7 separate regions of the Homo sapiens genome follow, and regions 1, 3, 4, 5, 6 and 7 are each reported to be linked to region 2. Evidence: microRNA targets listed by miRTarBase, many of them from high-throughput screens and not tested one by one. Region 2 holds a microRNA gene; each other region holds the end of a gene's coding sequence.

Region 1 (4,080 bases), not on the chromosome of region 2:
CATGAATTATAGTGCTGTTGGCCTTGAGCACAGTGTTACTGAATCAATAATACATATTAAATAAAGTGTCTTTAAACAGAAACACATATAAACCAAGGTTATGCATTGATTGACAAAAATGTAGTAGCCAGAGACTCACAGGAACTTAACCCTATATTTTCCCTAGAAGCAGTGGTTCCATATTCACTAATTTAGTGTTTGTAGTGACCTTATAGAAAATAATTACCTCAGAAACCAAGAATCAATCATGTATATATAGTGAGCAATTGGAAAATGTGAAATATTAATAACAAAAAGAAGAAAAATTCAACTATAATCTTACAATTAGTAGAGATAGCTACTAATATAACTATTATATATACTTCTCTTTTCCTATTAATATACAAGCATGTTTTTTAAAAAACTAAGACTATATTATATGTACTTTCTAATAAATATATTGTGACTATTATCCCAGGTTATCAAAATTTTTAGTAATATTTTAACAGCAGATACAAGCTATGGCTATGCCATTATTTATTTAAGATGCCAATGTTAGACATTTAGGTTGTTTTATGATATTTTTTGCTTCTCCTTTCCCATTGATTATTTATTACCTCAGATAAAAGTTCAGTCAATCCTCATTACCCATTTCTAAAAGTAGACACAACTACATTTAGGAATATTGCTTCAAACATAGCATATATATCTGATGTTGATATATTGCTTTTTTCATGTTTTCTCTTACAGTTCTTATAGTCATGAAATACCGTACTTGATTTGATGACAGAGATCTTCATTAAACAAGATCTGGGACAGTAATAAAAGATTGCTGCATAATTTAAATGAAACCTATGTGTATATAACTTTCAAAACTTCTTTTTCAAGAAACTAAGAGGCAAGTATCACTTCAAATTGGAACGTTGAGAATGTCCAATTATCTTCTCCCTTTCTAACAAAATGTTCTTTTAATAATTATGTTTAAGGCAAAGAGAACTAGCCTCTATTTTTCCATATTTCAAGGATCTAATTTGAAACTAGATACTTGCCAGTTCATTATTTGTGTATATAAACACTGATTATAATATTTCATATTAATATTTTAATGGCATAAGGACTTGCATTATTGCATTAGGGAGCGGGTCATGCTGGGGGTCAGGAAGCCTGTGTAGAGTACCAAATTATATGCTGAAAGAGATGCATAACCATTCTGTCAATATTTGCAGAAATATAGTTCCTTTCATATTACAGTTGTTTTGCAAGCAATTTCCACATTTATAGGTGTAACAAAAGCTAAATGTTGTAAATGTTGTTGCCCTCAGGTATAACTAAAAACATTCCAGTAAATATATTTTTGACTGTGTAAGAGAATGTGTAGTAATTTTTTTGGCATTGGATTATGGAAATGGAAATTTTTAAACAGTGTGAAAAAACATGGTATGGCATCATAAAACTGGAGATAATAAAGTTATTGAAGAGTGTCATTGGAGTATTTGAAAATGACCAATATATAGCTGCCAGTCATGGTCCAGTCTGTTTTCTGTTAAACTCCAATAAAGAGAGACCAGTCAGTCCTAATGTGAGTAAATGAAATTTACAGGTAACTTACTTACTCCTTAATTTTATTTTAGTTAATAGCCTCTAACTTCCAACTATCTCATTTACCAAAAGTACAAAAAGTAGCAAAACCATCTATTAATACTTTGAATTTTATATCTTTGCATTTCCTGTTCATCCTTGAGGAGATGTATGTTGCACAATCAAATTTTGCATCAGCCAACAGTAATGAGTAGTAGAAAGTCAGGAACCTATGTGTATATATATATATATATATATATATATATATATATATATATATACACACAAACACACACACACACACACACACACACGCACACATATGATAATCAGTCAGTCGGTAACCAAATGCTAGAGAGTGACCATTAACCTAAGCCTGTTTTTATAATGAAAAAATGTGTTAACTTTAAAATATGCCAACCTCCTTGTGTCTTTTAAACAAGTCAGAGTGAAAATACATTGTCCCCTAAGGTGTGGGGAGAGGAAGCTTTATAATAAAATTAGTGATTCTGCAGAAACTTGTGCACTGGATATCTTGACAATATGAATATAAAACTCCCTAAATTAAAAATAGGGTTAATAGAAATTATCAGTATTTAAATAGGGAAAAATGATTTTATGTTTATTTTATTTAGGTTTTATTTCTTTGGTCATCTTAATGCAAAATGAATAAAGCATAGAATCTGGGTTTGGTGTTTTTTTGTCTGTTTTTAAAATTCTACAGGATTATTACTAGGAGGCAAAAAATGCTGTTTAGAATGGAAAAAATTTGAAGAGAGAAAGCAGACTGAGACACTCAAGACACCTGCAAGTTATCTAAGAAGATCTAAATAGAATTACTAAATTTTATAGTTTGCTTAGAGCATTTAGAAGGAGATAAAGGTCTTACATACTATAGTGTATATTGTCTTTGGTCTCTATGCTCTTTGTAAATGTCAATTAATATAAACAGCATCTGAACAGCTAATAAATCTTTTAAGTTAAGATACCCAGAAAAATGAGCATTTTTAGAATTTCAGTAGCTAATAATTCAGGAATGGAAATATTTTAACTGAATGGACAGAATCAGTCCTAACATTTGTATGTATGTCCTTTATTTGAATTGGAACTAGGCTCATAAGTGGTTAATTTTCCATTAGTTGATGTAGAAATCTGGTTTCTCCATAATATCTACAAGTGAAGATGAAGATTACTTCTCAAAAAGTATCCATATTTCCAGTGTTCCTTTTAATAAAATATGCCACTTTTAAATAAATAATTACAAAATGTAAAATTATAAAATTTTTAAATTTAAATAATAAGTAACAGTAAAATTTTTTGACAATATATATGTCACTGTCTTTGTAATTTAAACATATTGCTGCCTGGGATATGGGTAACAGAATTATCACTCATGGAACTTTGTAGTAGTGATGGCTTGGTTTGTAATTCATCATTTCATCTTTCTTGGTCTTGATTAATCCTGAAATCCTTAAAATGGCTGGCATGGTTATGACTTTATTGTGGTAACCTTGGAGATATAAGCCCTCTTACGATCAAAAACAGAAGAAAAAAATATATTGTTCAAACTGATGCCAGGCCTACCTTTATTCCCTCCCTTAATTACTTTTTTTCTCATTCAGCTCAGATCATCCTGCACTTGAAAAATGAAGTTTTACCACCATCAAAACTATCATTATTTAACAACAAGTGAAGATCAACAGAAAAATTCAAGTAGCTTTGCAAATACTAGTTGATACTCAGTGAAATCACGTCACTATTTTGATGCCTGAATCCATACCTTTGTGATTTATGTTTAATTACAGAAGCCTATTGCCTTGCAGCAATTTTGTTGTTATAATACTGATTAATTGGTTACTCCTTCTTATTATAACTCAGTAATACCTGTGGTCATTTGGTTCCTCTATCCTGACAAAGTTCACTGGAAATTGCCCTCAGATTTTATAAACTGGGGGATTTCTTAATTAGATAAAAGTTCATTACTGAAGATGGAATATTATATAAGATGGAGGAAGGGTAATTAATAGACATGAGATATAGAAATACTTTGTTAGCCCTGCTATAGATTGCCTATTGTAGTCTTTCTGTGCATTTCAATAGTCTGTATTAGGAAATTATAACTTCAGCACTTTTGATAGCAAAAATTGGCATCTTTCAATTCTGTATAGTATGTGACTATCCTGTAAATGATAATATGTGTACAGACTGAGAAGGCAGGAATATAAAGTAATTGAAATCTCTCATTGCCGGTATACTCTAAAACATGCTTGATGCCTTGTCAGCATCATTGCACACATTGACTCTGTATTTACATCTGTATATACACTATGATTAGAAAATATGCAAGAAATTGTTTTTCCATGTTAAGAACAAATGCCATTAGAAGATGTCCCCTTAATTGTATTGTCAGAGTATTACTATGTCAAGGATGACTGTTCTGTTAACCTAATTTTGTGTTTTCACATGGAAATGTGATTGGACTCCATTTTTCTGTGAGTTGAGAGTAAGAGCATAAGTCAGTTT
Region 2 (4,080 bases):
AACAAGGCCTAATGAGTTGGGTGTGCACCCCAGGCCAAGGGCCTCAGCTGTGTCTGCAAACACACAGGGCCTCCGTAGGAGGGCCCAAGGGAAGCAGGGAGATGGGAACCCAGCCCGTTTGGAGCAGGTGCCACCATGAGTTTGAGCCCCAGGAAAGAGGCCTGTGTGGTCATGGGAAGGAAGACAAAGTCCGCCTTAGAGTCTACTCCCAACATAGGCACTCCACAAACACATATGCATCACCCAGGGTGTGCCTGCCGCAGTGAAAAACAGAGACAAGGGGTAGCTAGGTCTTCTCTTTACTAAAAATTTCATTTGTTGATTATCTAACCACCTATCTAAAAGAGTCCCAGATACATCTAAAATTTTACTAAAGATCAGCAGAATAAAAAGCTGAGAACAGAATCCAGGTCTTCTAACTCCCAGTCCAATAGGCCTCCAAGTAAAAATGGCAGTGATGATGAATAATAATGCATAAATAGCTAACGTTCATTGAGCCCTTACTATGTGTCAAGCATCATTCTAAGGACTGTGTTTATGTATTATCATTTAATTCTCACAAAGACCTTAAAAGATAGCTATCACTGGTACCATTTCTCTTTTGTAGATGAGGAAACTGAGGCTCAGAGGTATTAAGAGACTCGTCTCATATGCCACAAATAAGAAGTGGCAGAGATAGTATTTGAACTCAGATCTCTAAGATGCCAGAACTAAACTATACTGTTAAATACCAGCCCCTGTTCTCAGACAGACAGACAGAGAGGATGGCCCAATTCAGTGCTTTGGGGGCATAGAGGAAGGTGATCTTACCTGACCTTGTGTGATTAAGGGGGAGAAGACCAAAGAAGCCTTCCTGGAGGAGGTGATGTCTGGGCTGACTCTGAAATGACCCAACTTCAACACTGTTTACTGAGTGTTCACAGGTGCCAAGCAATCTGCCAGCCCTCTAACATGCCTTATGTCATTAAACCAGGCCACCTTGGGATAGAAGCATCAGCGTCCCCATGTGATCAATGAGGAAAGGGAAGTTAAGGAGAGTGAAGTTCAGAGCAAAGGTCACCACCCCAAGCCTTCCAGCTTGTGAGTGGAAACAGGACTCGAACTCAGGGCACTCTGAGTCTAAAGCAGGCACGGGGCCTCAGCCCACAATGGGTGTGCTCAGAAGTAGGGTGGGAGGATGACAGGATGGGAGTGCCCTGAGGATGTCAGGAAGGGCTGAGGGATGCAGAGGTCACGGATACCTGGATTCCAGTCCCTGCTCTCCCACCAATCCTTTGAAAGACCTTGGGCAGTCATTCGCCTTCCCCATCGGCACCATGGAATGACTGGATGAAGGCCCCTTCAGACCTAGGATTCCATGTTCATGTCCACCTCCAGTGGCCTGGCCCAGTGCAGAGCTGTTTTCTCACCCTGCACCTCACCATGCACCTTCTGGCTGTCCATCCTCCAGAGTCAAGCTCACACACCAAAGCCCACCTCCAAGACCCATTACAATCCATCCCCCAACTTTCCTTTCCCCCTCACTCCCCCAAACCCAAGCTCTTGTCTTACTGAACATGACTGAAAGTTCAGGTGGCCTGCAGGGCCCTGAAGGGCTAAATGGAAGTCAACACTATCACCTCTGTTCTATTCCCTGACTCTCCACCTCTCTCTCCATGAAGCCAGAAAAATGGGAGGCATTCTTGCCTCCTCAGCCTCAGGCCTGACCAGTGACTGTGCATTACGTCCTGCAGATTGTCTCTGAAATGTCTGTTGACCTCCCTCCCCATGAGTCCTCACTGCCACCACCCTAGCCAGGCCACATCTCTTCCCTCAGCTCATTGCAGCACCTTCCCAAAAGGGCTCTCTCCCTCCCACATTGCCCCTCCAGTTCCCTCCCAACAGCCACTATACTATATAAACAGATTTTTTTTTTGCAAAAGTAGTATTTTATTACAGAAGACTATCTAATTTACAAATCAATACAGTAGATATTTCGAAGAAAACATTTAAGCATCATGAAAGAATGCATGAATATAAAAAAAAACTCAATGTGCAAGATTCAACAAGGAAATGCACAGGAAAACTTATTTTTGAATTATGTGGTTGTTACTATGCCACTGAGAAGGCAAAATAGAACTCCTCTTCCAGAGGCCAAAAATGGAAGGAGACCTTCAGAATCTAGCAGAAGCATTTCCACACACTGGCTTCCATAGTCTGGTGTGTGTGCAGAAATGTTGTCTTTAGATTCAGGGAGTGTTTGCTCTTTGGAAGGAAAGGAGTGAAGACATTTCATTTGGCTGCCCTTTGGGGTTTTCTGCTGCTTTTTGGTGGGCTGCTGTTATCGGTTGATTCTCAGGAGCTTCTGAGGCTCATTGGAATCCACAGTCTCTCAAGATGCAGGGTTTGTTTTTGTTTTTCCAATCAATGGTTACATCACTTTTTCTAACAGAATGAACAGCAACCACCTCATAACTATTAGGATGGCTACTATTAAAACACACACACACACACACACACAGAAAAAAATAGTGAATCAGAACCCTTGCCCACTTTTGATGGGAATAGAAAATGGTGCAGCCACTATGGAAAACAGTACAGCCATTCCTCAAAAAATTAAACATAGAATTAAAATATGATCCAGCAATTGCACTTCTAGGTATATGCCCAAAAGAATTGAAAGCACAGACCTGGACATGTAAATCCACGTACATAACAGCATTATTCACAATAACCAAGAGGTAGAAGCAACCCAAGTGCCCAGTGTCCATCAATGGATGAGCAGATAAGCAAAATAGGGTTTATACCTTCAATGGGATATTGTTTGGAAAACGAAGGAAATTGTGATGCATGTTACAATGCAAGAGGAATCTTAAGGGCATTATGTTAGGTGAAATAGGCATGTTATAATATGGCAAACACTAAATGTTTCCACTTATATAAGGTACCTAAGGTAGTCAAACTCATAGAAACAGAAAGTAAGATGCTAGTTGCCAGTGGGTAGGGAGAGGGAGGAATGTGGAGTGATTGTTTAACGTGTACAGTTTCAGTTCGGGAAAATGAAAAGCATTCTGGAGATGGATGGTGGTAATGGTTGCACAATGTGAATGTACTTAAAGACACTGAACTGCACACTTAAAAATGATTAAGATGGTAAGTTTTATGTTATGTGTATTTTGCCATAATTTTTTTTAAACTTTAAATGTATTTTTTAAAAAAGGAATGGACAGTGAAAGATGTGGCTCCAGCCACTACAAAGTTTACAAGAACCACTAGTGAAATAAGTTCCTTCTTTTTTGTATTTTTTAAAATATTTTAACTTTTATTTTAGGTTCAGGGGCACATGTGCCAGTTTGTTATACAGGTAAACTCATGACTTGGGGATTTGGCATACAGATTATTTTGTCACCTGGGTATTAAGCATAGTACCCAACAGGTTTGTTTTTGTTTGTTTGTTTGTTTTTGTTTTTGTTTTTGTTTTTTCAGAAGCTCCCTCTCCTATCTTCCTCCCTCAAGTAGGCCCCAGTGTGTGTTGTTCTCCCTTTTGGTTCATCTGTTCTCATCATTTAGCTCCCACTTATAAGGGCAAACATGTAGTATCTGGTTTTCTGTTCCTGTGTTAGTTTGCTGAGAATAATGGCCTCCATCTCCATCTATGTTCCTGCAAAGGACATGATGTCATTCTTTTTAATGGCTGCATAGTATTCCATGGTGTATATGTACCACATTTTCTTTATCCAGTCTACCATTGATGAGCATTTGCAAACTATACATCTGACAAAGATCTAATATCCAGAATCTACAAGGAACTTAAACAAATGTACAAGCAAAAAAACAGACAACCCCATGAAAAAGTGGGCAAAGGACATAAGCAGATACTTTTCAAAAGAAGACATACATGTGGCCAAAATACATATAAAAACACACTCAGTATTAATCATCATTACAGAAATGCAAATCAAAACCTCAGTGAGATACCATCCCACACCAGTCAGAATGGCTATTATGGATCAATCAACATATAACATTTTGAAACATTCTGGAAATAAGAGTGTAGATAAATCAAGATTAGTCAGGAGTTGACCATTGTTAAAGCCAGAC
Region 3 (4,080 bases), not on the chromosome of region 2:
CTGTCCCCGCAGTACCACAGCCTGAGCTACTCCTCCAGCCCCGAGTACACCTGCCGGGCCTCCCAGAGCATCTGGGAGCGCTTCAGACTGAGCCGCCGGCGGCACAAGGAGGAAGAGGAGTTCATGGCCGCGGGCCATGCCCTGCGCAAGAAGGTTCAGTTCGCCAAAGACGAGGATCTGCACGACATCCTGGACTACTGGAAGGGCGTGTCGGCCCAGCACAAGTCCTGAGCCCCCCAAGACCGGCGATGCCCACTGGACCAAAAAGGATGCAGGATCCACCCAGAGACTCAGCACCAAACCCAACACACGCACGCCACCACAGCAACTGTGACAGCGGGGGGCCCTGCAGAGGCGAGGGGGGAGCGAGTGGGGACAGACAAGGGGGACACGTCCCGAGCTCCTGTGGCCGGTCCTGGGATGCGCTTGTCGCCCCGGGTGGCACGTGTCCACACACACACACACACACACACACACACACACGAGGGACTTCGGAAAACTGTGTCTTAGGGATGGGGGGTGGGGGTGGGGATTTTTTTTTCATTATCTTTCCTCTTTTGAGTCTTCTCTGCCTTTTCTTTTCCTCTCTATCTCTTTACTTTCTTCCTTTTTTAAAAAAATATAATAAAAGACAAGTTATTTTAAAAAGACATAAAATGCCATCCGTGGGGGGTGTGGCCGGCGTGGCCACCTCGGGGCCCCTCACGTGATCTCCTCGGTCCGTGGTTTTCTGTGGATTCTCTGTCCAGTCCGTCTCTTCATTGCCGCCTCCGGAGTCCACTGCAGAGGGGCAGAGTGAATGCCGGCGGCCAAGTGGCCTCCGGGACAGGTCCTGGAGCCCTGCTGGACTCAGGGTGGGTGGAGGCTGTGCCTGTGGACGGCCGGGGTGGCCAGGACGGCCAAGGGCTGGGAGGCACGTCCCCCAGCCCAGCCCCCATGTACACTGTAGTCGTTCTATTGTACAGAAAAAAATATTTCTATATTTGCAATGTTTGCTGTAAAATGAGAAAGAAAAAAAGACTATGTCTACTAAAAAAAAAAAAAAAAAGACTATGTCTACTTAAAAAAAAATCTGCAAAGGAAAACAAATCAAATGCTTGTTTGTCCTGGGTTTTTACTGTGGGTTTCAGGGAAAGAGTTGAGGTTTCTTTTATGTCCCGTTTAGGGGGTGGTTTTACTGATTTTGGCCTTGGGGTGGGGACACGCTGTGCTCTCTTGGCTAGAGCGTGGTGTGACCAGGGGGGTGCACGTGGGAACCCTTGGGAGGTGGGCGGCCCGCACTGGGCTGGAGCGTGTCTGAGAGCCGGTGTGGACAGGGTAGGCGGGAGCCAAGCTCAGGTGGCGGCGGGAGGACGGGCGGGAGCAGGGTCTTGGTGTGGTGGATCCACGGTGCGGGGCTGCTTCTGTGTGTGTCTGGCTGTGCGTGCCAGCGGGGTGTGTGCAGAACCCAGCAGCCGAGGGGGTGTGAGTGGGCCTGGGACGCCCAGAGGCTCTTGAGTGAGGTTCCGGGTGAGCCGATGGTGTGGGTTTGCATGTGATTGAGCGTGAGCGTGAGGTGGTTGGAGGGTGTGTCTGTGTGAGGGCGGGTTCCCCTGCTGTCGCCAGAGCCCCACCTACAGGAAGTGCCCAGAGACCCCTAATTCTTCGGGGGTCTCTCAGGACGCTGAGCCCGGAGCCAGACCCTGCACTGCAGCCCCCTCCATATGCATCTCACCCACCACCCCTCCAGGCAGCACGCCCTGGTGTGGGCCCCCGTTCTGAGTGAATAAGAGGCTGGAGTCCATGTGGGACGAGCACCAGGTTGTTTAGCATCCCCAGGGGAGGATGGAGAGAGTCCCTGGCTTCCTGCTGCCCAGAGCACAGGGTGCCCCTCATCCCACCTACAGGAGCCAGAGGGAGACGCTGAGGACGAGACTGGACTCCCAGGCCCTCGAATCCACCTGCCAGCTGAGTGGGGGTTTTGTACCCACCCCAGGGAAACAGCCCCCAGCCCTGCATCCCACGCAGAGCTGCCTTTCTGCTCAGGGGGAGGGCCCTGTGAGGAAGGGGAACACCTCACCCTGGGCCCGGACACCTGCCTGATGCCGGGACTGCTGAGTCAAAGCTCCCTGTCACCCCTCTCTTCCTGTCTGGATGGCCCCTCCCCTGTCCTTCCTAAAGTCCCGGCTGCTGAGCCCCCACCCCACCCCTCCATTGATGGCAGACCCACCCCCACTCTGAACTCTGGCACAGACCCAGGGAGGGAGGAGGCTGCGGCTGGAGCCGGGTCCCAGAGGCAACAGGAACCCGGGAGACTCCAGGGCAGGAACCGGAGGGATGAAGCCGGTTTTCAGGCTCTGACGGGTCCCCCAAGAAAGGACCCAGTCTCAGTCTGACCCAGTGGGGGACAAGGAGGGAGGGAGGAAGGGCCAGTGCAGGTAGGAGCAGGGGCAGCCTCTGCTTGCACGCCCTGGGTGACGGGAAGCTCACCCCTCTCTTCTGTAGCTGTCTCCAGCTTTCGGGACCTCCCTTACAGCAGAAGCCCAGGGGGCTGTCCCCCAGGGGCCACAGAACTGAGGGCCCATCTGTCCCCTCCAGGTTAGCCAGCCCGATCCTGCCACCTGCACCCCGGTCACCCCACCAGGGACCTGAGAGTGTGAGGCCTGCTCCGGGGGTGCACGCCCGGGTGGGCTCCACGGGCACCCTGTGACTCAGCCCTCCAAAGGGGGCCATTTCTGAGGACGCTGCATCACCAGCTCTTCGCCGTTTGACCCAAGGTTTCTGGCCAGCCCGGGACTCTCAGCCCTGGGCAGCTCCCTGTCCTCCATGAGGGGTCCCGGGAGGGCATGAGAGACCGCTGGAGACCACAACGCCAGGCCCAGGGGAGAGGAGCGGGGACCAGGAGCGGGTTCCAGGGCTGACGGGTGGAGGCCCAGAGAGGGCCCCAACCTGCCCAAGGTCACATAGCAACTCGATGACAGTCTGGTCATGGGACAGAGAGGTGGCCAGGCCTTCTCAGCCCGCTGCTCCCTTTCACTGAGGAGCGAAGATGGGCTATTTATAGGAAATGCGGGAGAAGGGCAGACACAGAAGAGAGGCGCCTGCCTTGGGAACACCGGGCAGCTGGCCAGGAGTCAACGGCCCACAGAGGAACAAGGGAAAATGGCAGGCAGCGAGGTGCGGGGTCCTCAACAGCCAGGACACCCCGCCCGGGAGCTCAGCCCTCCTGGAAGCCGCGGGGCTTGGCCCCGAGTGTCTGCAAACGCCCAGCCAGTCCTGGGAAAAAGAGGCCCGAGTTCCCGTGCCCTTGCTTGAAGGTGTCATGGTGGGGGTGACAGGACATAAGCAGGAGGAGACACACACTTAGGAAGCGGCTACTGTGTGCAGGGCTCTGTGCCAAGCTCTGTGTGGGCGCAGGGAGGAGCCCAGCCCGGCCCCGGCCCCCCGGGGAGCTCACAGGCTGGCAGAGAACTCAGTGCAGAGGTGGGTGACCCGGCTCAGGGCAGCAGGGGAGGCGCTGGAGGTCTGGGAAGGATGGGAACTCCTGACTGGGAAGAGCCGGGAAGGCTTCCTGGAAGGGGTGGTATTTGGTTTGGGCGAGGAAGGAGGTGGAGGTTGCCAAGGTGAGAGGGGTTGGTGCCCTGTGGGCTCAGAGCTGGGCTCAGGAGCAGGAGAAAAACCTGCCAGACCCAGCCTTGCCCTGCAGCTGGGATGGGTGCCCAGCTTCCGAGGGGCAGCCCTGGAGGGCAGGTCTTGCTCGTTTGTGAGACCAGGGCTAAGCCACAGCGAGGCCTCAGGCCCAGGCCGTACCCCTACGACCGTGTGACCATAGCAAGCCACTGGCCCTCTCTGCCTCAGTCTCCTCGTTTGTCCAGTGGGGGGGATGCCGATGCCTGTCCCTCCTGCAGTGCACTGGTTATCCATTGCCGTGATCATGCTGCCTAACCCACAACCACAGTGCGGTATGGCCCCTCGGGGGGCGGCTGGCAAGAGGGCACACTCTCATGTCACGGGGCACAGGGAGGACCGGGTTCTTCCCCACAGTCTCCCATCCTCCATCGAGCCAGCACGGGCTGGTTCTTGCGGCGACAGCCGAGGGAG
Region 4 (4,072 bases), not on the chromosome of region 2:
TGCCCTTTTGCCCTATCCTTAGCGACCGGGACACACAGCTGGCACGGCTGATGCGGCGGAACAGCCTGAACCGCAAGGACGCAGAGGCCCGCATCAATGCCCAGCTGCCCCTGACAGACAAGGCCCGCATGGCCCGCCATGTCCTAGACAACTCGGGCGAGTGGAGTGTCACCAAACGCCAGGTCATCCTCTTGCACACTGAGCTGGAGCGCTCCCTGGAGTACCTGCCGCTGAGGTTTGGGGTCCTCACAGGGCTCGCTGCCATTGCCAGCCTCCTCTACCTGCTCACCCACTACCTTCTGCCTTACGCCTAGTGGGGCACTCAAGGCAGGGAGCCCCAGGCCTCCATCTATCTCCTTGGAGGCTGAAGCCAGGTAACACATCCTGTTTCCTCTCAGCCCCCTCCCCACACACACACACACACACACACACACACACACACACACACACACACACACACGGACTCTCCGAATCAGGGCTGGGCCTCTGTGCCAGGCCATCCCGTCTTTGGAGTGTATCCTATTTGAGATCAAGAAATAGCCTGCTGTCCTTCCCACCTTCCCTGAGCAGCACCTACAGAACAGCAACCGTGATGGTGTGTGAAAGCAACAGTCAGAGACTGCTATACATTTCTGTGGGTGGGGGTAGGGAATACTGGCTCTGTGGCCCTCCTCAGAGCTGGGAGGCCAAGGGTTCACTGGGCTTGAATCCTCTCTAAGCACCTACCCCATTGTGGCCTAAACCTCCTCAGTGGACCACGGGAAATCATGTTGGACCAAGGGTTTCCATGTTCAAACAGTCAACAAGGCCCTCCCCTAGGTTGAGATATTTTTTATACTGAAGGCCCAGGCCCCCCAGTATGGCTTGCTGCCAGCAAGCAGCAAGGATTCTCTCGTGGGTAACGCTGTAGCCAGGCAGGACCAGCCTCTTCTGGGAGACCCCTCTCCCCACGTAGGGTTTGTGTAGTGCTCCCACATCCTGCTTATTGCCTGCCACCCCTGCTTCTCGCCTGGACCTCTTGGTATTCCGTGTACACCATCCTTGCTGTTTCTTGCCTCTGTGCCTTCAACCTGCTGCTCCTGGCCTGGGATACCTTTTATTTTCTTTTATTTCTTCTTCCTTTTTTTTTTTTTTTTTTTTTTTAACCTACAACTAGCTCTCAGTTCAGGCACTGTCTAAAGCCCCAGGCTGGGTTAGGTGGTCTAGGATACCAACTCCCCCTCAACATTTTACCTTAATCCAACAGTACAGTAATTAGCCGAAACTTGCCTGGTTTTTCCTACTAGACTGTAAGCCCTCTAGGGACAGGGACAGTGTCTTATTCATCTCTGTGTTCTTAGTGCAGAGCCTGGCCCGCTGTTGGTGTTTAATAAAGTGTGTTGATCTGAAATGCCCCAGACCAACCAAGATTCCCAGACTTGGCTTCTTCCCACACTGGGCTGGAGTCCTCCCGGAGCTCAGGGGGAGGTGAGGGCCCCAGAAGGTGCACTTGCCATCAGGCTTCTCCCTGGGTCCCAGGAGGACTGCAGCCAGGCCCGAGGCACCTTTGTGGGAGGTGGGTAGAGGGCTGAGGCAGCGTCACACCTTCTTGCCCCGCCTCCCCATCTGCCTTCCCCAACCCAATTAGACCAGCGCAGACATAAGCCTTCCCTGCCAGGGCCTGCAGACTTGCTGATGTGTTGATCCTGCAGCCAGAAGCCTATTAAGGCTAGAAATGAGTGTGACGGATGCAAATGCTGTGGTGGCCATACTTAGTGCCCCCTTTCCCAGAGCCGCTTGTGCTGAGTCTAGCTCATTAACTTGCTGCAAACCCCTAAGGGGCAAAGAAGGGCCGGGTAAGGCAGTGGTGGGCTGCCAGGTGGGTGGCCAGGCAGGATGAGGGTGGCAGGAGCCTGCCACTTCCTCGGTTTGGTGCGATCCGCCAGGACGGAGAAAGGAGAGGGAAGGTATGGACCCCCACAGTGCCCTATCACCCCAATAATTGAGGAAATGGCACTTCCTAGTATCGGCAGCATGCCAGGCACTGCTGGATGTGTAAGACCCTATAGTTAACATAACACTGATTATTTCCATCCCAGGCTCAGAAAGATGGATTTGGTCCAGGTTGCAGAGCCAGGCTTCTGAACTCTCTCCTGTGCCCTGAGCCTCTTGTCAGGAGGAGCTGGAGCCTGGGGTTGGGCCTTGGGCTCGCATTCCGGCTCCGCTTGCCATGTGACCTCCTGCCTTTAGTTTCTACTCATACATCGTTAGGCTTCATAGTGGAGGACACTGAAAACCCTTAGCAAACTGTAAAGTTCCAGAGAATTAACCTTCCCTGACCCAGTGAGCTGGGTTTGAAGCAGGAATGTCAGAGCATGGCAGGTGTGGAGAAACCTCGAATTCAGCCCTGCCCTGCCCGGGCCTCGCCAGAGCTCCCTCTCCAGCTCCTCTTGCCTCCCTGCCCCAGGATCCCCTTCCCGGCCTTGGGGGTCCAAGGCGGCCTTAAAAGAAGGACTACTTTCTCCGAAGGGGACTTGAAGTTGAGGCCGCTCAGCAACTGCAGAGGTCGGGCCTCCGGGACCCAGGCCCGCGCCCGAGCCGGCGGCCTGCCGTTCGGCCGGCAGGTGGCAGCACCCTCCCGGGCTGGGCCGGGCCTCCGCGGCGGGCGCTCGCCGAGCGGCCTAATCTTCCTCCTCCCAGGCCGCGGGCGGCCTCAGACTCCTGCCGAGCAGCTGCCGCGGGAGCACGGGCCAGGTGGGCGCGGAGGCTCTGCCTGACCCTGAGCGCTAACTCAAAAGGTGCGTTGTTCGCCCACGTCCTCTGAGCCTGGGCTGCGGGCCCTGGGTGCCAAAGGGCGTGTCCCCTGCCCACCCACCGCGACGGCGACGGGACCCTGCAGCCTCCGCGTTCCGTTCCCTCACTTTGGGCCTTAGCACCCGGAGCGGAGCAATAAGACACCAGCGAGGGTGAAGACGCACACGCCTTCTGGGCGGGGGACGAAGGGCGCAGGCAGGCCTCTAAAACACCCCCACCCCCAGGCCCGACTGGCCCGAAGGTCATTCGCAGTTTCACAGTTTACAAAGCACGTTCCAGTTATCCCCTTGAAATCTCCCAGCTGTGTGAGGCAGACAGGTCCAGAATTTTACAGAGGCTCAGAGGTTGAGCCAAGGGGCCTAAGTAGCCAACAGGTATAACCACCAAGCTTCTTGACTCCCAGTACAGTGCTCCTCCGGCTATCTGCACTGCCCCCATTATACACTTTGGCTCTTTAGTAATTGACAACTCTTCTTCAAATGTTCATTCTCTCTCTCTCCTCATGGGGGGCAGGGCAGAGGCAGGGAAAGGTTTAGGACCTTCCATGATGAGCCTCCATGGCTAGAAATTGAATGGGAGCAGGATAGGCGCGCTGCTGAGCGCCCCTAGTTCTCACCAAGGCACTTTAGGTCAGAAGGAAACAGTCTCAGAGCAGGAGGGGGAATGCGATGGCAGTGATGACTTCAGGCCATGGGGTCATATAGGAGTGGGCAGGGAGACCCCCGGACATGGTGGGAGAGAAGGAGCAAAAGGAAGGAGGTGATGTGGTGCTATAGGTTGCTTTCCTGCTCCTTCCAGGAGAGACGTGGCTGGTGGTTCCTCATCCCACCTGCAGAGCTGAGGCTGCACCCAGCTGGGACCCAAACCGCCTCTCTTTGCTCCCCACCTTCCCCTCCGCTCCCAGTCACTTAGATTCCAATACAATTTCCAGCTAACCAGCATGTCGATAGAACAAGTCGGGCGGCCGGATTGCTGGCCAATTACAGGAAATCATTCTGCTCCACAGCTCAGCGCTCAGGAAGGGAGAGGGAGGGAGGGAATTCAAGGGAGCAGGCGCCCAGCTTACAGGCTGGGAACGGGCTTCAGGCAGAAGGCTGGGAGTGCTGCAGCCCCCCACCCCTGAGGGGTGGGGGGTGGGGGAGGCTCCTAGGGGCAGGCCAGCCCTAGGCTCATCCTCAGCCTCATGCGGAGCTCTGGATCCAACTTCTGTGTGATGGGGAGATTGGTGCCCCAAGCCACTAAGAGAGACAGAGCTGGGAGTTGAGTGTGGTTGAGGGTC
Region 5 (4,000 bases), not on the chromosome of region 2:
TTTTTCATTACTAACATAAGATTTAATACGTAGTTAAAGATTCTGACTTGGCACTAGTCATTAGCATGTAATTGAACTAGTAAAAAAGATCAGTTAAAGCTGTGTTGATTACCACCTTATCTTTGAAAGGCGATTAAAGACCTCAATCATTGCAACAAGATTTGATCGTGCAGCCTTTATTGGACATTGATCTTTCAGCAAAGTGCAGTTACATTTTCCATTAATTTACAGTAACAGAGTTTAACTCTGATACTCTAGACTGTTGACCCAGGTGAGATGTAATGCTAAGTACTTGTTTAGGTTAAGATGCCCCCAAATGTCATTATTGTTTGAGTAACAGTAGATACTTAATCCACTAGCTTTAGGATAAGGTTTCTGTTATCTGCATTAGCTTTTCAGTGCAGTGAAACCAAGATCTTTGCCTTTTATGTCATCCCACTTATTCAAACATCATTCTTTAACAGAGTTAAAAGATATTTCATGAAGAACTATAGATGTTCTATGCTTACAGTTTTGGGTGAATATAAATGACATGAAGTAAAATGTACTTTAAAAGATACACGGTTTTAATAATTACAAATGTTTCAGCTAGGCCTGGTGGCTCATGCCTGTAATCCCAGCACTTTGGGAGGCCGAGGCCGGCAGATCACCTGAGATCAGGAGTTCAAGACCAGCCTGACCAACATGGTGAAACCGTCTGTACAGAAAATACAAAATTAGCCGGCGTGGTGGTGCATACCTGTAATCCCAGCTACTCAGGAGGCTGAGACAGGAGAATCGCTTGGACCTGGGAGGTGGAGGTTGCAGTGAGCCAAGGTCGCACCATTGCACTCCAGCCTAGACAACAAGACTGAAACTCCTTCTCAAAAAGAAAAGTTTGAATTTTTACGGAAGTCAACGTTAGAAAAATATTAATGCCCCAAAATGTGTGGTAAACTATAACTGTTTCTACAATTTGGCATTTTAGGACATCAACACTAAGAAAATAGAGATTTTTGTATTAGCAGCCTCTCTCACGCTCCCAAATAGGTTACTGCATCTTTATAGTGGCTCACAACTTACACAGGAACTAAGAATTTTGCCTAGGAATTTGCCTAGAAATTTATTCCAATACGTGATAATTCATTTGTATAGAAATAACAATAGAAGAGATGCAAGGTTTTGTACTAAAAGTACACCTTTATTAAAACAGTTTTGGTTGGATTAAAGATAAAAATCCTGTCAAAGAAATATGACAGAAAAGCTAATCAGTGGTTTCACCAATTAAGAAAACTACTGATATGCAGAAGAGAAGGGCCTCTTCAGCTCCCCACATGCCACTTCAGGGTTAGTGGGCATGTGCTATCAATGCATCTCTCCTTCTTTCTCCATCACCTTATTTTTGAAATTTTTTAATTAATGAAGTCCTTTAAGTATAATGGAGCAGAAGAATGTGGATTATAAAAACAGAGCTTTTGCAGAGACAAAAGTAAAATTGATGTACATTTTCGGGTAGAAATGTCTCTTGTTTCGTTCTTCTCAGATTACAGGTGGAAAAACCAAGACACAAAGGAGGAGAGTTATTAGCCTGAGGTCAAAAAGTAAGACAGCACCAATACTAAAAATAGACTCAGTCTCCTGACTTACACATTTATACTTTCTCCCTTTCAGGCCATAATACTTTGGTGTAATATGCAGCTTTAAAGAAAAAACTTAAACCATTGCTGTTCAATGGGAAGTATTGTTTTCAGACTACAAGTTTACAAGACTTAATAAATCCAATGAATGATATTTAAATTTTTAAACCACGCCTTTACCCATTGTTGAGTTAGTTCATCCTTCACCATGATCAACTCCGTAAGAGCAAGAGGTCTATTGATTTTCATGTAATACAAGAAAATATTACATTTACTTGTTATACAGTGAGCACATCAGACAAGAAATCAAGGCCCTGTTTAATGCTGCAAGCAGCAGAGAATTACAGAGATCAATAGGGTAGTTTGTCAAAGATGTTCTCCAAGGACACTTACCTATCACATATGGGCAAGAAGTCACACTGACTATAGCTATTGAAAAACAGGTAAGCAGAGTCAGCAGTACAAATTATCAGAAATCAAACAGGCCAGTGTGAAAAGAGGTGCAACTCTACTGAAAAGCTGTATTTATAGTCTGGTAATTAAAGACCATTTTATCAGCCTTGTGTTGGGACCAAACCTTTACAGCCACTATTGACAAGACCAGCAGCAATGAATGAGCAGTATTTGACTTAAAACTTATGAGCTATAGTTATTTAACTTTGCCCATTACAGAGGAAATCAGTTCTAGCCTTCCCTGCAAAATGCTAATAGCCAGTTGTTTTATTATTAATGAAGCTTAATGTAACACTATCTCCTTTGTGTAAGCCATTCATTTAACTAGTGTCAAGTATATTCTTCTGGACTAAATATATTGGCATAAGTACTTCTTTGATTAAAGTGTTACTTAGAATTGCTTTTAGACAAGTGAACACCACATATATTTGAAGAACAGTTCACTCTGTAGATCATTTAAAATGACTACCTTTAACGAAGCTAGTTTGTATTACTTCATTATTCTGGTGCCTTCACCTCAGTCACTTCCACTCACTTTCTCTACTGACTTGACATAAGCATCCAAATGTTGAATTTTATAAAATGTTTTGCTACAAAAATGTGTAAGTGTTGCAGAGTATCAGCAACACATTAACATAAAATGATATATAATGTATGTTTGTAATTATGGGAGAGATCATAAATCTTAAACACCCATTGGTTTAGAAATTAAATAGTTCTACTTAGTTCTCCCTAAATTACTCCAAATGTCTGAAATTTACCATTCATCTGGGTATTTTGTGACTACCCCAAGGATACATTTTTTTAAATGACTTGGCTTTCAAAAATGCAATTAAGTTAATAAAATTCAAATGCAAAAGTGCCATTAGGTCTTTAAAATTTCAGCCCACTCCTTATTGCCAATAAGTCTATGGATATGTACCATTTCAGTTAATTGCTTTTATAAACAGTTACCAAATTTATTTTTCTGCATCTTTCTAGAAGATCTTAATTGTTCTTACAGCTTTATAGGAAAGCTGTTTTAACTTTTAATAAGTCTGAGTTTCATTCACCTTGCTACACTTATATTAACCAGTTATTATTACATTTTACAAACGATATGGTTTTGGACTCTTTAAGCAACAAGAAGTTTCAACATTACACTCCAACCCCTCCTCCAGGTAAATGGCACAAGGCCTTTAAAACGTTTCTATTTACAATCCTGGCAGCTGAATGGTTTAGACTTGAGATTACAATTAGATTCTCATCAATTTTGGATTTGCCAATGATGTAATATTTCCATCATACATCCTAATGTCTTCTACTTCTTTTTCCATTGTTACATAAAAGATTTTCCCCCCTTCTCTTTTGTGTGGGCATCTATATTTTCTCTTCAGAGTTGATTTAAATTGTTAATTAACTATAGAATCTATTACATTGTAATCATTTTTTATCTGTAGGTTAACCTAGTTCTAGGGAAAAAATGGTGTGAAGCTTCATGTGTTTGTAGTTCACATCAGCTAAACAGAGTATGTAATATATAACGATGTATAAAAAGCTTCACCTCTTGAGGGCAATGATTCATCTTAAAGAAGCAGATACTGTAGAAAGAAAAAAGTATTTGCAAAAGTTTTATTTTAAAGGATCAAAAATAAATACTGCACATATACACAGAGAAAATCCACTGATATTTATGTTCTTTGACGCACACTTTCAATACATGGCACCTTCATCTTCTTTATTGAGAAAATAAACTGTTATGGGTCCATAACTGGTATGCACAGTCTCTGTGACTCTGGCAAATAACCAGGAGCCAAGTCCATATAATAAAGTTGGAATACCTAGAAAACAAACGAATATGTATAAACATCAATGCTTATTAATCATGCAAGTTACTGATCACGTATAACACTCTTCAGCAATGTTAACAAATTACAATGTGATAAAATATA
Region 6 (4,080 bases), not on the chromosome of region 2:
ATATTTATACTTGGATCATAATTTTTATTGTAGTATAATTTACATTTGGTAAAACTCACAAATCTTAGTATACAGATTGATGAATTTTTTTTCGTACGTTTACACTTGTGTACTCATCACCAACATCAAGATACAGGGAATTTCCAAGCCTTCCCATATCCCTTGATGTTTTTCATGTCCCATATTCCCAGAAATCAGTGGATTGAAACATTTTTTAGTTAGTCTCTACAAGGTTAGTATTTGAGTTTTGGTAGAATTTTTGAAGGGGTTTGACCCTAATCTTCTTATATTGTTTTAAATTTACTGTTTCTTCATCAAAACTTAGTTAGCATCAATGGCAGGTACAGCGGTGCATGCCTGTGTCCCAGCTACTTGGAAGATTAAGCAGGAATATCGGTTGAGCACAAGAGTTTGAGGCTGTAGTGTGTTATGCTTGCACCTGTGAATAGCCATTGTACTCCAGCCTGGGGAACATAGCAAGACCCCATCTCTTAAAAAAAAAAAAAAAGCTTAGCATCAATTCCTGGATTTATGGCTTTACTTCTTTTGTGCTCTGTTTTATGTAGAGTAGCTAAAGTCTTTGATTTTTTTTTTCTCTCTTAAAGGCACTCCGAGTCATGGGGAGAATAATGCGTGAGTGTTGGTATGCCAACGGAGCGGCCCGCCTAACTGCTCTTCGTATTAAGAAGACTATATCTCAACTTTGTGTCAAAGAAGACTGCAAAGCCTAATGATGATAATTATGTTAAAAAGAAATCTCTCATAGCTTTCTTTTCCATTTTCCCCTTTATGTGAATGTTTTTGCCATTTTTTTTTTGTTCTACCTCAAAGATAAGACAGTACAGTATTTAAGTGCCCATAAGGCAGCATGAAAAGATAACTCTAAAGTTAAGCATGGGCAGGAGTTGACTTCATCCAATCTCTATGTTATGTTTAATTTTATTTTGAAAGCAACACCTCAACTCATCTTTTTATTTAATAAGGAAGAAATATATTACAAAAGTATAAAATAAGCTCTATAAAAATGTTATAGTCATTAAGTTTTTATTTTACTTGAACCAAGAGCACATGAATGAACAGGAAAAGATGTAAAAACATTTTTTTCTGAGATGAAAACATATTAATTAAACATGCAAATTAGAGCATGCTATCTTTAGGTGATGCAATCTATGTTTCCCCCTTTTTAAGTTAGCAGGACTTTTTAAAAATAAATATTGCTCTAAACTTTAATATATCGAACGTGAGAGTGGAGCTGCTTAGTGGAAGATGTAAGTGAGGTGGGTGTCCCATGTGCTTGGTCTCCCCTTCTGCTGTTCTCCTGTTCTTCATAATCCACTACTGCAGCAGTCCCTGAACCACTAAACTTGTTCCTTTCATTTACAAAAGAGATACCTGACATCCTGAGACACTGAGAAATGTCCTGAAGTCACACAGCTAATGGCAGAACTGGCACTAGGTCCAAATCTTGTGATAATGAACACCGTAAGGTTAGCTAGCTTCCTACTTTCCCTTGAATAGTGCTTTTCTCCCTATGTAATATCTTTTATTATGATATTTGTGGTTTAGAAGGCATATTGAGTTATTTTGCAGAATCATAATGGACCCGCACAAAATCTCAGAACCATATCTGTTGACATTTTTTCTCATAGAAATATCATGGTTACCCCATTTGTTAATGAGCATTAATGTTTTCTGAACACTTCCAAAGATTAATCAAACATAAATATTCATTGTCTGAAAATGTCTTTAAGATACAATTCAGAGGTCCCTATTTCCTTTGTACATACACACTTAGAAAGAAAAGACAGAAAAGGAAGAGGAAGGAAGGAAATATTTTGAGAATATATTGAGAAGAATTAAGAAAACTCTTCAATGAAGTGTTAACAACCAAACCCTACAGACGGTATCAGAAACAGCAAATAGATATTCCTCTACCCTTTCACAGTGAGTGAGTGAGTACAGAAGAATGCTCATGATAGTTTTGCCTTCATTCTACTTTCTGTGGACACAGAGTAATGAATATTTAATGGGACATTAAATATGCCCTTCAAATCTATAATTTTACTTTGGTAAACGAGATTTAACATGATGTCTTTTATGCTCCTAAAACATCTTTTTTCAAACTCCATTCCTTAGAACATTCTTCTACTGAGATGATCCAAGACCAAAAGTGTTCTTTGGTACTTGCTTATAAAGTGATAGTACATGTTAGCATATAATGTATTTTGAAGAGTGAAGTAAATGCTATTGATAACAGTAAAAAAAAAAAAAAAAACTAATAACAGTAAAGAAATGCTACTTGATTTTTTTTTAAACTGGATTGCTCAGATTACCTGATCGTGGTGGAACCCTTTTATTAAGAGGAGGGGAAACTTTTTACTATCCCATATTTAACTGTTCTATAAAGCAAAGCACAGCTTGGGTAATAGCGTTCTGAAGGATATACTTCTGTATTTTCTCATAGAGTACAATTTAGTGATTATGCTTCATTTCACTATGGAAATATGTTACTGAATCTATCTTCATTTTACTGAGTTGAAATAAGGAAGGCAAAAAACTGACAGCTATGGAGTTTGCGTGTACTTCCATACTCGTTAATGCTCTCATCCACTTATTAAATAATCATAGAGCACCCATATCTTGCTTGCCACAATATCGGGTACAAGAGGGAATACAAAGATAGATAGGTCCTGCCCTCAGGGATTTTAAAGTCTAATTTGGGAATGGGAATAGGGATGTGAGTGTGTGGGGGAAGAGATTAAATTGACAGATAAAATACGAAGTGGGATGTCTTGAGTTCTGCATGACAGTGGGTTTCTAGGATAGGTCTGAAAATTGCTTTCATTTGCAACACATTTAGAAAGTAGCTTTATTTGGATATTACAGACAATCTAAATATATCATCAGTTTTTAAAAGTGCCTATGTGAAGTGATTTTTAAAAAGAGCCTATGTGAAGGGGTAATCTTGCTTGTTCTTGTTACTAATTTCTCATAGATTGTTTTTCTGCATATATAAGAACGAAATTATTTATTTACTATGGTTGTACGTGCCTCAAATAAACAAGAATGATATTTCCTGTTTTATTTACTTATGTTGGGTAAATATGCTTATTGAATTTTTAAGAGAGGATTTTTTACCATCTCCATTTTTCTTGTCATTATGTTTTGTAGCTTATTTGAGGGTGTCTAAATATAATTTCATATTTTATTGGTTCAACTTTCACTCTGAAGAAATCCGTATGTTAGTACATTTTGAGGTATTTTTCTTGTTCTTGTGTTGTTTAACTATGACTCCTAACTGAGTAGTCTTATATTTCAATTACAAAATACATTTTTTAAGAAAGGGAATAGAGCAGCAAAAATGATAAGGAAAATGTTAAAAGTTGTAATATTTCCTTTACTCTTAACAGGATTATATATAGAACATGCTCACTTACAAAAATAGGATGATGAAGTTTAGAGCATAAGGCAGGCTTCTTGTATATACTTATGCTGTCAAATGTTATATTGTTTTTAATGGAGTCCCATTGTGTAATATTTATTTCTTTTACATTTTGTTATAAGCAAAAAAAAAAAAAATTCTCCTTAGGTTATGTTCAGAGTATCAGTGTTCTTTACTCCTTACAGATATTTTGGCTTTGGGGTATAATACAAGACTTGGGAAAACACTATTATGAATTTTCAGTACTGTATAAAGTGGTGATGGGATTTAAATGCAGCATCACTTTCTGAAAATAAGAGAAACATTATTTGTTGTCAGTATTTCAGCATGAACTTGTTGCCTTGTAAATTTTGCCTTTAAGTTTGTAATTGGTACAGATTCTGTTGTATGCTTTCTTCTATGTCTAAAATATTTGGCATGTCACATCTAGAATTCTTAATTTATGTTCTGACTTGAGAGTTAAGTGAAACATGACTGTCGTGCACTATTTTAGGCATAGCACTTGCTTTTCATCTTTATACTTTCAATTAACTTTGCATTTTAAATTTCCATGATTGTATGAAAATAGTAACCTGGTTGCAGTATCTGAAAAAATTAAAATTAGCTTTTATTTAAAAATGAAAATCTACAATAGATTC
Region 7 (4,080 bases), not on the chromosome of region 2:
ATCTCAGCACTGATCCAGACCCCACCAGCCAAGCATTTGTGGGACCCGCACACTTTGCTCTGGAGCTTTCTAGTAGCCTGGATTAATCGACCCCTGTGCTTCATGCCTTTGCCACCAGGAGAACCAGTGCAACTGAAGTTTCCACTGCCTGCTGCTCTCCTGTGGCATCCACATCCTGAATAGGCAGGAGGGTGCAGCCCACCTGGTGCACAGGGAGGAGGAGGAACGTCCCCTCTGAGATACCACAGGTCAGCAGACCACCTCTTCCCAGACCAGCTGGGGAGGGCAGGGAGGCGGGGTCTGGAGGAGCTGCGGGAATCATCTAGAGCTTTCCAACCAAAGGGATAAAGTAAGCAGGAATGTCCTTGCAAATACTGCCCTGGCTGTACCTGGTCTTTAAAACACAGCAGCACCTTTGAGAAGTGGCTGGGAGATGGGACGCCTGCCTGTACTTTTCTCCAGCTAAGCATGCATAGAAAGCAGTTTCAAATATTCCTCTTTAAAAAACACAAACTTTCATTTTCCAGGCACACTTCACAAGTGGATTTCTTTAACCAAGGACACAGAATACTTTCTACATTCTGCAAAAACAGTTGAATCCATTTTTTTTAAAGTTTCAATGCCATTAGAAAAGAAAATGTGAACACAAAGCAAAACACGGGGAGAAAGAGTCCCTCATTCCAGAAACCTATTGATGTCATGTCCCCTGAAGGACAATCTTTCTCACTTAAGAGAGAGAAGCCAGATGAAAGGCCATCTTCACATGACAGTGAGCAGGCTTGCACAACTGACCAAAGACGGACACAGAAATGCAAAGCAACGTGAATTTCCATTGAAAACCCCCCAAAAAGCACACAGTGAACGATTCCAAACTATGAAACTGAAGAAGCACTCATCAAGAGATCATCTGTTCCCACTGAGCATCCTTTTGAGCCTGAGGAGTAGGGAGCCACCCTGGGCCCTATACCCCACTCACCCTCTCCTCTCTTCCTTCTGTCCACACCACCCAAGACTTCCTCCACTCCCTCTGGGAGGGATAGAATTGTAGTCCGTGGCAGTATCCAGGATTAGAACCATTGCTTCATTAAATAAAGTACCTCTGTTGCTATAAACCAGATGGAGACTGTGGTGCTATTTTGTATTTTTTTTTTAATGGAAGGGTGTTGGGGTGGCAGTTTTTATCCTTGAAGACCTCAGATATGCTAAGTCAACCTAAGCAAAGTATACTCGGTGGAACCCTAGCTCTGTGGGGTGATCTGCAAAATAGAGTATCCTGGTCATGTAAGTTCAGGAAATGCTACAGACTCAAGGATTATTTTTGGGGATTCACCATGCACAGCACACATTGAAGGCTGAAAAGTCCTTGCAGAAAGGAAACTGACTTAACTTTGTTTCTTAAGGATATTTGACCACAAAACCCTTAGTCTGCATCACACCAACCTGATGCCTCCTGGAACCTGTGTTCTGTAGAATGCGTATTAGAAAATGTTGGACAACCTGTTTCATTATCAGAAGTCCCATTTCTGAGGACAGTGTTCTCTGCCTGGAAATAAGGTCCAGATTCTCAATTCCAGGGACAGCCAAGGTCTGTCACTCTACCCAGTAAAACACATTGCGTAAATCTCCATCCATCAAGGGTATAGTTGCTGCGCCCTTCACAAAGGGGAGAGAGCTCGGAAGAAGGTACACAACGTTTTATAAATAGCTTCAGCTACCTTCTCCGGCCCACATCTCACTCACGTTAAATAAAATAATTTCCCCGGTGAGATGTTGCAGCTGCTGCCCACTGAGCTTGCTGTGAGCTTTACAATACAATCTTAATAGTTTCTGTGAATAAATTATTCAATTTTTGTTTGTTTAGAATATCCTCACCCCTTCACTATATACGGCATCAAAAACAAAACAAAAGGCAAAACTTACCCACACCCCATCCCACCCTCCCCTATTATTAAAACTATTATTATTATTATATACAGTAGCTGCTACCAACTCATTCACTAGCTGTAAGAGGGATGTGGCTCAAACTTCAACTGAGAAGCATCAGCAATGGCTGGAAATGAGAAGCATGTTTAGATGTTAATTAGCAAGGAACAGGAAATGAAAAGTTTCCAGGCTTCCAGAGGAAATGGGGCATGGATTATGGAAGGCTGTCCTTGCTGCTCATGCATGGCAGTTACCAAGATGCTGATAGTCTTTCAGCCTCTGGAGGACGTGAGAGGGTGTGCATGTGTGTATGTGTACAAATAGTCCACCTCTGACCTTCATGAGGGGTAAAAACCATTGCAAATCCCCAAGTGTACGAGTCTCACCTTGGCATTTCACACTTGTACGTGGCAAGCAGTAGAAGACAACACTTCTACATGGGGATGTGGTGCTAGGCTGAATGGAGATGACAGTAGGAGGCACTTGAGGAGTGTTCCCCTTTCCTCACCCAAGGCAGACATTGCTAATCAACCACAGCACTCTTCCACACTGTGCCTGGAGAATCCATTCTGGGGCTTAAAGGCAGACATTACCCATCAGTTGGAGCAGGCACATGATAGGACACATTTTTTTAGCATCTTTTCTGTTGGTCAGTGAGCTTGGGATCACTCACGAATATAAAGTGGCCTGCTCCGAATGTGAGGTTTTCAAATATGGGCCATAGAAAAATGTAAATTTGTAGGGGTCATGGACCTTCTGCTGTTGCTCATGAATAGTCCAAACCTCATGTCAAGTCCATGAATAATATCAGGGGTTTGCTAATTGTCGAGCTGGATGCTCTATGTCACATAAAGCTTTTTGAGGGCCAAGACTATTGGGTTTGTTCAACGCTCTATCTTCAGGGCCTAGTATATAGTAGATGCTCAATAAATATTTGTCGAATATAAAGCAATAGCCACTTCACCTTCACTGCAACTGGCACCGCCAGTTTAAAATTCCTGTTAAAAAAGCCTATTCTATCAGATTGCTAATTCTGGTGAAAAATTGTTACAACCAACTTTCTCCTTGGGTTAAAAAAAAATCACATTTCTTTAGTGCAAGGGACTTTCAGGTCGATTGGAATTGGTTTGGAATGAGTCCCTTGCAAAGATGACTCTAAGTGCAATAGCAACCTACTTATTTCTAGCAGAAATTCAAGAATGGTGGCATCCATACACATGACAATGGCTGTTATCACATGACTCCATGAGAGGTTAGTAAGGAGAACATTCATGCCCCCAAATGAGCTGTAGCAAGCAAAGCAGGAATCATAGATTTCTTCTGGAAAGATGTTAGAATTTTGCTGCCACAAAAAGAAATAATGAGACCATGTTTAAATAACTATAAATAATATTAATTAGAATTTATGGAATGCACAATTCATGGAATTCACCAGAACACAAGAAACCTTTGAGACAGTGTTGCAGTATTCACTTCTACAGACAAGGACGACCCATCCTATTTCCCCTGCAAAGACAGCTGTCCTTCCCTACGAAGGATTTTAAATAATTCTCACTATGCTGCTCGCAGCATCATCCCCAAAGAAATATTAATTTACAAAATAACCCAATATCCATATAATTCTTTTGACAAATAAAAATCTTAAATTAAAAAGCATGATTCTCTCCCTCTCCCCACCCCCTTTATTCCAATTTCAGGTAGCTTGGCACTGAGTAATTGAACATTAAAAAATCGAGTTTGTAGACTTCGTACAGCTGCGTTTGGTGCTCTGAGCTGATGTTCTGGAAGAATTCTGTGGTCATTTCATCAGTAGTTCTCGTAGACTTTGCATAGGTGGGGAACTTCAGGTAGCTGCCCACTCCTGCCAGCTGCAGGACGTAATTAGAATCCTCTTCCAGTGTCTCGTACTTGCCCACGAGGTCATAGTGGATGTGGCAGGGATGGCAGAGTGAGTAGACGGTTTGCCAGTGTTCGTTGAAAGGCTCCTCCCGCTGGGTGTGTGGGTCGATGAGATAGGCCACAAACTCCTCGAATTTGACATCGTCCCCTTTGCGCAGGGCCTCCTGGGTGGCGTTCTTCCGCTGGCGTTTGATGATCTTGGTGCCGTACCGCTTGTGGAAGGAGATGTTGTACTTCTGGGTGAACTTGTTGCGGTAG

What was found. Region 2 holds the annotated microRNA hsa-miR-147a (GUGUGUGGAAAUGCUUCUGC, at 2,164-2,183, opposite strand). A microRNA usually pairs through its seed, bases 2 to 8, with sites in the 3' UTR of a target mRNA and lowers its output. Matches are read on the target gene's strand: a 7mer-m8 pairs with bases 2 to 8, a 7mer-A1 pairs with bases 2 to 7 and ends in A, and an 8mer does both.
Region 1: miRTarBase lists VAMP4 as a target of hsa-miR-147a. Seed matches in the 3' UTR shown: 7mer-A1 at 1,839-1,845.
Region 3: miRTarBase lists ELFN1 as a target of hsa-miR-147a. Seed matches in the 3' UTR shown: 7mer-m8 at 450-456.
Region 4: the mRNA of DCAKD is a reported target of hsa-miR-147a. Seed matches in the 3' UTR shown: 7mer-m8 at 407-413.
Region 5: miRTarBase lists C15orf61 as a target of hsa-miR-147a. Seed matches in the 3' UTR shown: 8mer at 3,417-3,424 and 7mer-m8 at 926-932.
Region 6: the mRNA of ACVR1C is a reported target of hsa-miR-147a. The part of its 3' UTR that is shown has no 7-base or 8-base seed match.
Region 7: the mRNA of CHST11 is a reported target of hsa-miR-147a. The part of its 3' UTR that is shown has no 7-base or 8-base seed match.

What each region holds. Positions count from the first base shown.
Region 1 is chr1:171,701,184-171,705,263 of GRCh38, reverse strand. It overlaps VAMP4 (vesicle associated membrane protein 4), which reads left to right. Exons shown (of 8, transcript NM_003762.5): 8 at 730-4,080. The coding sequence ends at 758. Among named protein-coding and RNA genes, the nearest start is that of VAMP4, 39 kb to the left of the region's middle.
Region 2 is chr9:120,242,822-120,246,901 of GRCh38, forward strand. MIR147A (microRNA 147a) reads right to left here and starts at 2,229; the gene lies at 2,158-2,229.
Region 3 is chr7:1,746,853-1,750,932 of GRCh38, forward strand. ELFN1 (extracellular leucine rich repeat and fibronectin type III domain containing 1) reads left to right here. Exons shown (of 4, transcript NM_001128636.4): 4 at 1-1,094. The coding sequence ends at 231. Among named protein-coding and RNA genes, the nearest start is that of ELFN1-AS1, 6.6 kb to the left of the region's middle.
Region 4 is chr17:45,020,675-45,024,746 of GRCh38, reverse strand. DCAKD (dephospho-CoA kinase domain containing) reads left to right here. Exons shown (of 5, transcript NM_001288655.2): 5 at 23-1,403. The coding sequence ends at 314. Among named protein-coding and RNA genes, the nearest start is that of DCAKD, 29 kb to the left of the region's middle. RefSeq lists a silencer at 2,366-2,715.
Region 5 is chr15:67,526,307-67,530,306 of GRCh38, reverse strand. It overlaps C15orf61 (chromosome 15 open reading frame 61), which reads right to left. Exons shown (of 2, transcript NM_001143936.2): 2 at 161-3,889. The coding sequence ends at 3,762. Among named protein-coding and RNA genes, the nearest start is that of IQCH-AS1, 6.5 kb to the right of the region's middle.
Region 6 is chr2:157,530,569-157,534,648 of GRCh38, reverse strand. It overlaps ACVR1C (activin A receptor type 1C), which reads left to right. Exons shown (of 9, transcript NM_145259.3): 9 at 606-4,080. The coding sequence ends at 731. Among named protein-coding and RNA genes, the nearest start is that of CYTIP, 89 kb to the right of the region's middle.
Region 7 is chr12:104,757,329-104,761,408 of GRCh38, reverse strand. It overlaps CHST11 (carbohydrate sulfotransferase 11), which reads right to left. Exons shown (of 3, transcript NM_018413.6): 3 at 1-4,080. The coding sequence ends at 3,606. Among named protein-coding and RNA genes, the nearest start is that of MIR3922, 170 kb to the right of the region's middle.